2 separate regions of the Homo sapiens genome follow, and region 1 is linked to region 2. The links come from fine-mapping of genetic effects on gene expression. A gene starts in region 2. The other region holds a variant in brackets. All regions are shown on one strand. Distances are from middle to middle. Region 1 holds the start of ALDOB (aldolase, fructose-bisphosphate B). Region 2 holds the start of ZNF189 (zinc finger protein 189).

The links. PIP is the estimated chance that this variant, and not a neighbour inherited with it, causes the effect.
Region 1: its variant is fine-mapped to the expression of ZNF189 in tibial nerve (GTEx, PIP 0.98).

The regions. Positions count from the first base shown.
Region 1 is chr9:101,435,236-101,440,621 of GRCh38, forward strand. ALDOB (aldolase, fructose-bisphosphate B) reads right to left here and starts at 539. Exons shown (of 9, transcript NM_000035.4): 1 at 474-539. The variant A/G (reference allele first, on the strand shown) is at 3,091.
Region 2 is chr9:101,396,251-101,401,636 of GRCh38, forward strand. It overlaps ZNF189 (zinc finger protein 189), which reads left to right and starts at 2,601. Exons shown (of 3, transcript NM_003452.4): 1 at 2,601-2,939; 2 at 3,634-3,760. The coding sequence starts at 2,907. MRPL50 (mitochondrial ribosomal protein L50) reads right to left here and starts at 2,368. Exons shown (of 2, transcript NM_019051.3): 1 at 2,251-2,368. The coding sequence starts at 2,342. RefSeq lists enhancers at 1,481-2,010, 2,011-2,539, 2,072-2,601.

The DNA of each region.
Region 1 (5,386 bases), 39 kb after region 2:
GAAACTTCAGTGTCGGTACCAGTAGGTGTGGGAAGAGAATGTAGAAAATGACATAAGGCAGTAGATATGTAAATAAATCACTAAAATAAGTAGTTGTTATGAAAAGAGAGTTGAGAGTTGAAATGAACAGGAATCTCAAAAACTGATTAGAACCTAACGATAGGAGTGTTCAAGTTGTTTTTCCTAGATCAGAGACTCACAAGGGCCTCATTCAGGTAACACAAGTAACTGGCAATCAATCTTGGGCATTTTGCCACCTCTCAAAAAGTCAGGAAAGGTGTGAATGAGCATTTATACTTAGAGAGAGGAAAACAAGCATTTCCCTCCAAGCAGAGCCATCATGTTTTCAGCCACCATCAAGTTTTTCCCGAAAACAAAGGCAAACCAATCTTCCCTTCTATAAGCTTAGTAGTATTATTAACCCCTTATTCACTGGTGCTGTCCAGGTATACAAAGGAAGCTTTTTTACTTACAGTTTGGGAGAGAAGAGTCCTCCTAGATATCAAAAGCTGTGGGTGAGGCAGCAGCTGCCAAATAAGACAGATCTTTGGTAGCACACAATTTTTATAGACTTCTCATCATGTTTTTTTTTTCCAATATTTGCCCTCCCCTTTCTACCTTGACCTAGTAGGGAGGTGTTTATTCAACACCTCTGATTGGCTCATAAACAACCAGTCCTTAAAATCATGCCCATATACTCCTTATGCTCATAGAATGTTAAAGCTGCAAGGAATGTCTTTAGACCGTGGAGTTCCTAATCCAGACCCTCCATTTCACAGATGAGGAAACTAAGGCAAGGAAGATAAGGAGGTTCCCTTAAGTCATACAGCTAGTCAATGATGGAGCTCTAGGGTCCATTAAATGATACTAGGAAGAATGTTAGTGTAGCTGTAACACTTACAAAACACATGAACTTGGTGACGGGTTTTTGGTTTTGTTTTTTACTTGTCTGAGCCGTTATTTTCTTCTCTGTAAAGTGGGATCTCAATTTCACAGGAGCATTAAGTGAGTTGTATAGTGTCTGTACGCAGTAGGCATTCAAGAATTATTATTTCCAAATTAGGTAATCAATGCTATATTTTCATTATTTATCTTCAGTATATCATTAGTAGTCAATTCCAACAATTTATTCTATAATTTATAGTTAAATTTAAATAATCTTTCAATAAAAGAAATTGATTCTGAATCCTTGAATTTCCCATGTGTGAATTTTGTCCAAATTGGAAATAAAATTCAAAACATTCTGTTTTTAAAAATCATTGTCTCTCCCATCTTCTCCAGTCCTCCAAAACCTAGCTGGGCTTTCTGATGTATTTAATGCCAGAAATCATTGTTTTGTATTCCCATTCTCTTTTAACCTTTGTACTTTTGTCTTCAAATTTGGTTAAAAACTAGAATTAAAGTGATTGAACTAAGCCATCAACACCCCTAAATATGGTACTGTCTGGGTATGGGTTCATTCTGCAGGGCTTTTTCCTAAGTATGAAACCCAAATTTAATTCCAGAAAAGGTAAATAAAAATATTATATGCTTCCAGAGGCAAATGATGAATGAGGCAAATAAATGAGGGAAATCTAAAAGTGATGGAATGACCGTAATTACAAAAAAGGGTAAATTCTCATGAACATGTTCCTCTGGAATAATTCATAAAATGGAAAACAAAACTAAGATGCTTGATTGTGCAGAGTGTAACACCAGAATTTATGGATGAAAAGGTGAAATGTCAACAAAATGAAGGAAAAAATAAACGGAACTAGGTGATCTAAAAAGAGTTTTGGTTTAGTTTTGGTTGTTTTTCCTAGATCAGAGACTCACAAGGGCCTCATTCAGGTAACACAAGTAACTGGCAATCAATCTTGGGCATTTTGCCACCTCTCAAAAAGCCAGGAAAGGTGTGAATGAGCATTTATACTTAGAGAGAGGAAAACAAGCATTTCCCTCCAAGCAGAGCCATCATGTTTTCAGCCACCATCAAGTTTTTCCTGAAAACAAAGGCTTCTGAGAACAGTAAGTATTCATCACTGAATGTGAATATTGAAGGAAATTGAAGTATTTGAAACACAATATTGAGGCTCATTTGGCTAGGGAAGTTCCCACCAAGCCCTGTCCTGAGGATAGTAGAGGGATAGACCAGGGAAAGGTCCTATCAGCTCCCTTGACTCCACTTAGTATCTGATGGCACATTTCCTGGTTTCCCCATCTTCAACTGGGCTCATTGAAGCACCTGCTACCATATTTGTCAGACCAATGTGACCAGCTTTGGGGCTATGTGAGGTTTCATCCTCTATGATTTTTGGTAAAGGAGAATGGAGGAACAAGAGGTGGATGGTGATGAAAGAATAGAGAGTGGGTGTAATGAAAGTTGTTAGGAGTCAGGGCTGGGGTAGTCAGAACCATAGCTAAAACATTCTACCTGCTGAGAGATGCTACTAGTACTAATTATTCTTGTTATACAACAATAATAGCTATCCTTTTTTTGAGAGTCTATGATGTACCTGGTTCTTTTCATAAATTATCTCCAATATCAGCGACTCTCTGAAGAAACGCTTATTACCCCCATTTTATGCATAACAAAACTCTGGTTCAGAGAGGGCAAGTAACTTGTCTAGAGTCACAGTACAGGTAGCTGGAGAGTTTGTCTCATTCCAAGACAGTGATCTAAAGCAGAGCTGCTTACATTTTGGTAACTGCAGACTCATAAATTAGCTCTTTCCCTATTGCCTTCTCAGCAGTTTATAACCTTGGACATTAAACTTTCATTAATCAGGGAGGAATGACTTGCGTCAGCAGACGTAGGTGTCCTTGGTGAGCTGGGCATGGCTCCATGTGAACAACAGCCTGGCTAGGAATGTCAGAACAGCATGAGTACTCCTGCCCTGAGTGCTGCCACTTGCTGCTGTTCTTGTAGCATCAGCATTTGCCCACCTCTGGGGCTTGATGTGCAACTGAAACTCAAAGTTCAGGAAAACAAAGCTAAGGGCTTACTGGACCTTAGAGAAACAGCAACTCTTGACCAACATACACTGCTTGCAGGGTTTTTGTTTTTATTTTTATTTTTGTTAAGTCTCCTAACACAATACAATGTTCAAA[A/G]TTGAGTATTATATGTGGAAACAGCATTGGACTTGGAGGCTGTGAAACACTGGGAAGTTCTTCAACCTTAGTCCACAGTTTCCCCATCTGTAAAATGAACTAGGAATGCCTCTATCAGAAATGTATTATGAAGCATGAATGAAATAATATATGAGTGGCACTTTGTACAGAATAGGTTTTCATTAAATAGCTAGATCTGAATGCATAACTGGTTTAGAGGCCTTTGATTGTAGGATCTTAAAATAGGCAATGTAACAACAATACTATTCATGATCGTTACAGTCAATACTTCTAACAACAGCCTCGCTTATTCTCTACTCCCTGCCCAACTCTAGATATTTCTTCTGGTTTGAATGTGATATCTATATAAGTCAATCCACAGGCCATGAGATAAATGTGTTATTAATGCATAACATGAGGTCTGAGTCATAAGCAAACTTCTACATGCAAATAAATCTCACATATTATAGAGTTACACTTACTGTAGAATTAGCAATATTATAGAGAAAGAACTTTCATAAAAAGAGACCACATTACACAATGCAACTGGAAGAATCACGATTGGCATTTTAAAATATATTTTCCAAACTGTGGTACAGATATTTCCTTATCATATTGCAATCTGCTTTGGTGGTTGGAATAGTTTCAGGACCCCAAAATCAGTAGTTATTACTTTGGTCTAGAGATAGAGCTATGTTTTCTCAGCATGGCTCTCAAAAGTGTTTTGCTGTTATGTGTATAAGGCATTTTGTTAGCTATGGAGACTTTTTAGAGGATACGAGGTGAGTAAGACTGGCCTATTCTCAAGAAACCTGCATTCTAAAAGGAAGAGAAGATTGAAGTTGAGAATCAAATAAAATCAAACCAAATACAAGAATGTACATAAAAACACCAAGAGATTGTTGTTGTTGTTGCTGCTGTTGTCACTGCAGCATTTATGGATGACTGTGTGAAGTAACATTAAAGAAAAGTCCTATGAAAAGCCCAAATATTCGAGATTTTTTACAAGGCCAAGTCAATTGATTCAATCTGTCAGACTGTAAGACCTAGGGGGGTAGGGGGTAGTAATGTCTTACCAATGTTTCCTCATTATCCAGCACTATGCCTAGACACCAATCAACTTTTGTGGAATAAATGAATCAATAGATATATGAGTATCAATATAGGTGTATATTAGTATCAATCTCAGAAAAGTCTAGAGTAACTGGCTTATAATTCTCATCCCAGAGAACTTTGAAATAAATAATAAGTAGAGTATGAACATTCCTTTCTTCTAAAACTATACTAGGTTCTGAAAACTCTTCTATCATTGCTCATTTGGAATTTCACAGGAATCCAGGCTGTAGTGCCTTGCAATGGTACACAAGAACCACAGCCTCCCTACTTTCAGTAAATTCTGGTACAACACACATAACACAAAATTTACCATCTTAGCCATTTTTAAGTGTTCAGATTAGTAGCATTAAGTGTATTCACATTGTTGGGCAACCAATCTTCAGAACTCTTTTCATCTTGCAAAATTAAAACTCTATACCATTAAACAACAACTCTCCATTCATCCTCCCCACCACCCCCTAGCAACCACCATTCTGCTTTCTGTCTCTATCAATTTGACTACACTATGTACCTCACGTAAGTGAAATCATAGAGTTGTTGTCTTTTTGTGTCTGGCTTATTTCACTTGGTACAATGTCCTCAAGTTTCATCCACATTGTAGTGTGTGTCAGAATTTCCTTCCTTTTTAAAGCTGAATAATATTCCATTGTATGCTGCATTTTGTTTATCCATTCGTCTGTTGATAGACACTCGGGTTGCTTCTACCTTTTGGCTATTGTGAATAATGCTGCTATGAACATGGGTGTACAAATATCTTTATTTAGACTCTGCTTTCAATTCTTTTACGGTTTTATTGAGATAGAATTCACATAGATACAATTCACCCACTTAAAATGTACACTCCAATGGTTTTTTTAGTCTGTTCATAGAATCAGAGTATTAGATGTCAGTTTGTGAGAGAGATGTGGTAGGTTTTTAAGATGCTCCAAATCTGACGGTATAAATAGTTTTAAAGCACCACCATGAAGTCCAGGAGCAACAGCCACTGGGGTGCAGCAGATATGAGAATGAAAGAGTCATGGGTCCCATTTCATTTCCTTGTGGTAATTTTTTTAGATGCTCTTCATCACTAAGAAATCTGAACTCTGTGTATTCTAGGAACACTAGAGTGCCTTGTATATTCAAGTATCCAGGGTAAGTAAATTCAATAGTATCCAAATTGTGGGGCTTAAAAATACCC
Region 2 (5,386 bases):
GTTATAAACAGAACTATCCTAACTATCCTAAGATCTAGCAATCTTACTACTCGGTATATATCCAAAGGAAATGAAAGCAGTATCTCAAAGAGACATCTGCACTCTCATCTTCATTGCAGCATGTGTGTATACATGTAAATGTATACATGTATACACACACATACACAATATTTAAGGCTGAATAAAATGCCATAAGTGTGTCTATATGTATATGTGTACCTATGTATGAATATATGTATATATTATGTGCTTGCATATATACACACACAAAAAATGGCATTTTATTCAGCCTTAAAAAAGGATATTTGTAACACATGGATGAACCTGGAAAATATTATGCTAAGAGAAATAAGCCAGACAGAGTAATACCACATGATCTCACTTATATGTAGTATCTAAAAAGTCAAATTAGGCCGGGTTTAGTGGCTCACGCCTGTAATCCCAGCACTTTGGGAGGCTGAGGTAGGTGGATCATGAGGTCAAGAGATCGAGACCATTCTGGCCAACATGGAGAAACCCTGTCTCTACTAAAAATAAAAAAATTAGCCGGGCGTGGTGGCGGGCACCTGTAGTCCCAGCTACTCGGGAGGCTGAGGCAGGAGAATCGCTTGAACCTGGGAGGCGGAGGTTGCAGTGAGCCAAGATAGCGCCACTGCACTCCAGCCTGGAGACAGAGTGAGACTCCATCTCCAACACAAACAAAAAAAAAGTCAAATTCATAGAAACAGAGAGTAGGATGGTGGCTACCAGGGGTGGCGGAAATGAAGAGACGTTGGACAAAGGTAAAATTTAAATTATGTAGAATGAATAAGTTCCAGAGATCTAATGTACACCATGGTGACGATCATTAATAATACTGTACTGTATACTTGAAATCTTCTGAGAGTAAATCTTAAGTGTTTTCACCACACACACAAAAATTCTAACTGGCCAGGTGTGGTGGCTCACCCCTGGAATCCCAGCAATTTGGGAGGCCAAGGTGGGAAAATTACTTGAGTCCAGGAGTTCAAGACCAGCCTGTGCAACATAGTGAGAACTCCTTTCTCTAAAACAAAACAAAACAGAAAGTATGTGAAGAGATGAATATGATAATTATCTTGACTAATAATCAACATCAAGTTGTATATCTTAAATATATAAAATTTTTAAAATAGTAAAGAAAATATAATCATCATTCTCAGTAATCTATTTCCTCTAGTTTTCTTCATAATTTACCACTTTCTGAAATTACATTACACATTTGTTCATTTCTTCCTCCATTAGAACATATGCCCTACGAGAACAAAAATTTGGTCTGTTTTAGTAACCACTGTATTCTTACAACACCTAAGATATAGCCTGGCATATAGTAAACAGCCTAAAAAATATTTGTTGAGTGAATGAATAAAACAAACTTGGAAGAGATTTGAGAGATAATAACAAATATTGACCAAAGAAGAGGGAAAGCTAATATCTGAACTGATGAAAAAGATCTTTCCTAATTGTAGTGGTTTTTGTTTTAAACCTAAGAGAGCATACATTGCTCCCTAGGGTTCCTACCATACGTTTTGATTTCCTAAACACTATCTAAGTCAAATTAGATTTACCTTCAAACAATTACACATGGTGCAGCCGTGCAGCAGAAAAAGCAGTAGATGGGGAGTTAGGAGACATATGTTCTAGATCCAGCTTTGCAATTAACTTGCTTTGTGACTTTGGGAAAATCACTTCCCTCCTGTGGGCCTGTTTCCTCATATGTTGGAGTACCTCGAGGATGAGAATGGATTTTGTTTTTCCTGCTGTATCCTAGGCGCTTAGAGTAATGCTGGCCCTAAGAAATCTGTTGAATGACTGAATGAATGAACAAACAAAAGGAGGAGGCAGTACTTCATTACTGAACCTTGCTTGTGAAGAAACACAGCCGGCAAATGAGTTTAGTTTACCAAGCGCTTTCATGTGTTTGCAGACAACACACTCGGTGTCTCGCACACGAGGTTAATCCTGCTTGCTTAATAAATAAATGAATGAGTGAAGTGAAAAGGAAAGGGGGTGGTATTTCCGTTATAAAATGAGAAAACTAAGGCCGAGAGTGGAAGAGACTGGGTCCCACCACTCAATGAGTGCTTCTCAACTCGGGACCCTAACCGGACCTCCTTGTCCTTGCTCTGATCAGGCGCGGGACCACGATGGCGTAACACTCTATTTTGAATTCGTCCCTAATCCTCCTTAACTTTCCTTGAACATGACCCACCGTCCACCATAAAGCTTTACCTGAATCGAGACCAAAATTCTCTACATGGTGTCCCTGAGACTGTCCACATGAAGACTCTTCTGGTAATGCCCGACACAGATCGCGCCGCCATCTTCGATGAGATCCACGGGCCTGAGCGCAGCCTTCAGCCAGCAGTGACGCGCCCAGACCAGCCAATCGGATACAATCCCAGTGGCAAGAGCTTTCTTTTTCCTGTAGGCTCCCTCGCCCTTTGCACGCTGGGAAATGTAGTCCAGTAGCTGTTGCTGGCGGCGTCTGGACCGCGGCGCTCTTTCCGAGCATGACGGGAGTTGTAGTTGAGGGGGCCTCGGGAAGAATCTGGGTGACGCCTTCTGGTCCGGGGGCGGGCGGTCATAGCGTTACTTGGCTGCAAGGAGGAGGAACTGGCAGCGGGGAGGAGGCTCTAGCGAGGCCTGAAAGGCTGCGTAACCAGGCAGGAGTAGGGGTTGGGGTTCGGGGTTGGGGGACAGCCAGGGATCGCGTCTGATATGCTGTTGGGGTCGTGACCGTCTGGGGGCCGAGGCAGGCACTGGCCAGACCCAGCCAGGGATCCTCGTATTCGTCGAGCCTAATTTCCAGCAGCCGGGTAGGCCTCACCAGAGGCTCCTTTCCGTGAGGCCGCCCCCAATTCCTGCCCCTATTCTCTGCCTGGGAGATGGCTTCCCCGAGCCCCCCGCCGGAGTCGAAGGTAAGTAAGCACCCCCCCGGGGATCCCGGTTGTCTCGCCGCTACCCCAGCTAGGCCGCACCACTGCTTTCTCCCCCAGGCCCCCCACCAACCTCCTGACCGCCTCTTTAGGGCCAGCGCCTTGCAAGGAACTCCCCACTAGTGCATTGGGGTGCGGTTCGCGAACAAACTGCCCACTGGCTCCCTTTTTTTTTTTCTTTTTCTAGAGAGACTTGATAAATCGGCCTGAGAAAATAAGTAATGCTCCAGACTAGCTCTCTCATTTGTGAGTTCTCCAGGTGAAGCACCATTTTTGACCTTCCCTTGTGTCTTCTGTTCCTGGCACAGTGCCTGGACCCCAAGGTACACGCTTAGAGAACCTCAAGGAATTGAATTGAATAGAGTCACAAGCCAGTGCAAATGGAAAATTGAAGTAGGCAATGAGGTGAGGGAAGCTTGGAGAGGCCTTGGGGCAGTTTACTAAAATTAAACTCTCAGGGCATAATAAATCAGAAAAGCCTTATCCGTAGGTCCTTTCTAGTCTGAGATGTCTGTCAGTTACAGTTCGTTCCCAGAATTGGGCAACATATGGAACTTTCAGTTATCATGTTCCTCCTAGCCTACTTGGCCACAATAAGTGATTGCCTCTGTCACTTTTAGTGGTAGAATTGTCCTTGAGACAACAGGAACTGACTACAGAAATCATACTATTTCAGGGGTTGCTGACATTTGAGGATGTGGCTGTGTTTTTTACCCAGGAGGAGTGGGATTATCTGGACCCAGCTCAGAGAAGCCTGTATAAAGATGTCATGATGGAGAATTATGGAAACCTGGTCTCACTGGGTAAGAATCTGCTGTTTCTCTAATTAAAATATCTAAGAAGGTAGAGAGAAATCAGACTAACAGAACATTTGGACGGAAACCAGTACCAAAACTGCTTTGTTCCAAAGTTCTGATTCAAACCTTTTAGCCATTAATTGTTTCCATAACTCTCATCCCTAGCTTCCTTGAGGTGACCAAACTGCAAGCCTTTCGGGCATCCTGTCTTCATAATCTCATTCCCATATTGTTCTGTACTTTCCGTCCTGGCTCATCCTCCCACAGCTTTCCTCCCACCCCTTTTCACTCTGCGTTCTGGAACCCCTGTTCGTCTTCACATAATGTTCCTTCCCTCCTGGCCTTAACTGAAACCTGGCACTATCCCAAGGACAACGTTTCTCTGGCAGTTTTTCAAGTGGGGGCTGCTTATTCTCCCACATCCTCCTCCTTCCCCATCCTTTGTCTCAATGTTGGAAGGGGGAAGTTATTGTTCACTCAGCTTTTAAATGCTGTCCCCAAAGCATTAGTTTTCCACCTTCAAACAAAATCTCTCCTTCTTTGAGGTCTCAGCAGTCTTGCTTTTTCCACTCAATTCCTTTTCACTATCTGTCAACTTTTAGTTTGGTCCTTCACACATAACTTTGTCACATGTTTCATAGTCTATTTTAACTCGTGCCATGGATGACCCAGTTAATACTTCAGCCTCAGTGGATCTTCAGGGACCCTGCTTTCCACTTTTACTCAGCACCTTACATCATTGATCATACCAGTTTTGTCATAACAGGCAAATCGTAAATCCCAATACCCTATTCTCTGACCAGTTATTCGGAAATGGAAGTTTATTGACTGTGACTAGACGAGGGTAACCAAAACAGACAGGCTTTCTCCCCTTGTGGAGCTTACTACAACTTCTCTATCTTTCCTACTCCTTTCCACCTAAACCCATTCATTATTAACGATGTTTCCTGTCCCTTGACGTCTCTGTTTTTTCACTGAGGTGTCCAACCTTTCTGGGCTTGTATCCCCATCTAATCACCAGCAAGCTCTCTTGCTAGCTTGTCATTATTCTCTACCCATTCTGCAAACTTCAAATCCTGTATTTGTTATAAAATTCACCTTTCTCTCTTTCCTACCCAAATTGCTAAACATAGCAGGAGAAATTCTCTAACCAGAAAGATTGATATCCTTTATATAAGTATGGCCTTTTTCTTCCACTCTCCACTGGGTTTTTATATCTTAGCAATATTTTTTGTCACTGATATGCTCACTGCCCTGTTCTTTTTAGTGACTATTCCAAAAGCTTATCCATCATTAAGTAGTGAAGCTCACCTTCTGTTTCTCAGAGAAAATAAAGGCCAATAAGCATGAACTCTCAACTTCTCTGCCTCTTATCTACACACTTAAAGCTGCTCTCATCTTCTCACCTTTCCAGAAACTAATCAGTCATTCTTTTTTCCCTTTTAGTTTCAGTCACTATTTCTTCTCCCTTGGTACCCTTATTCTGATGATTGGTATGTTCATAACTCTTCAACAGGAGAAAAGAGAGGAAAAAAGAAAAAATCCCTCCTATGAGTCAGACTCTCCCTCTTGCTGCTGCCTATGATTTACTACTTGTTCTCTTCATAGTCAAGATTTTGTAAGAGTAGTTAA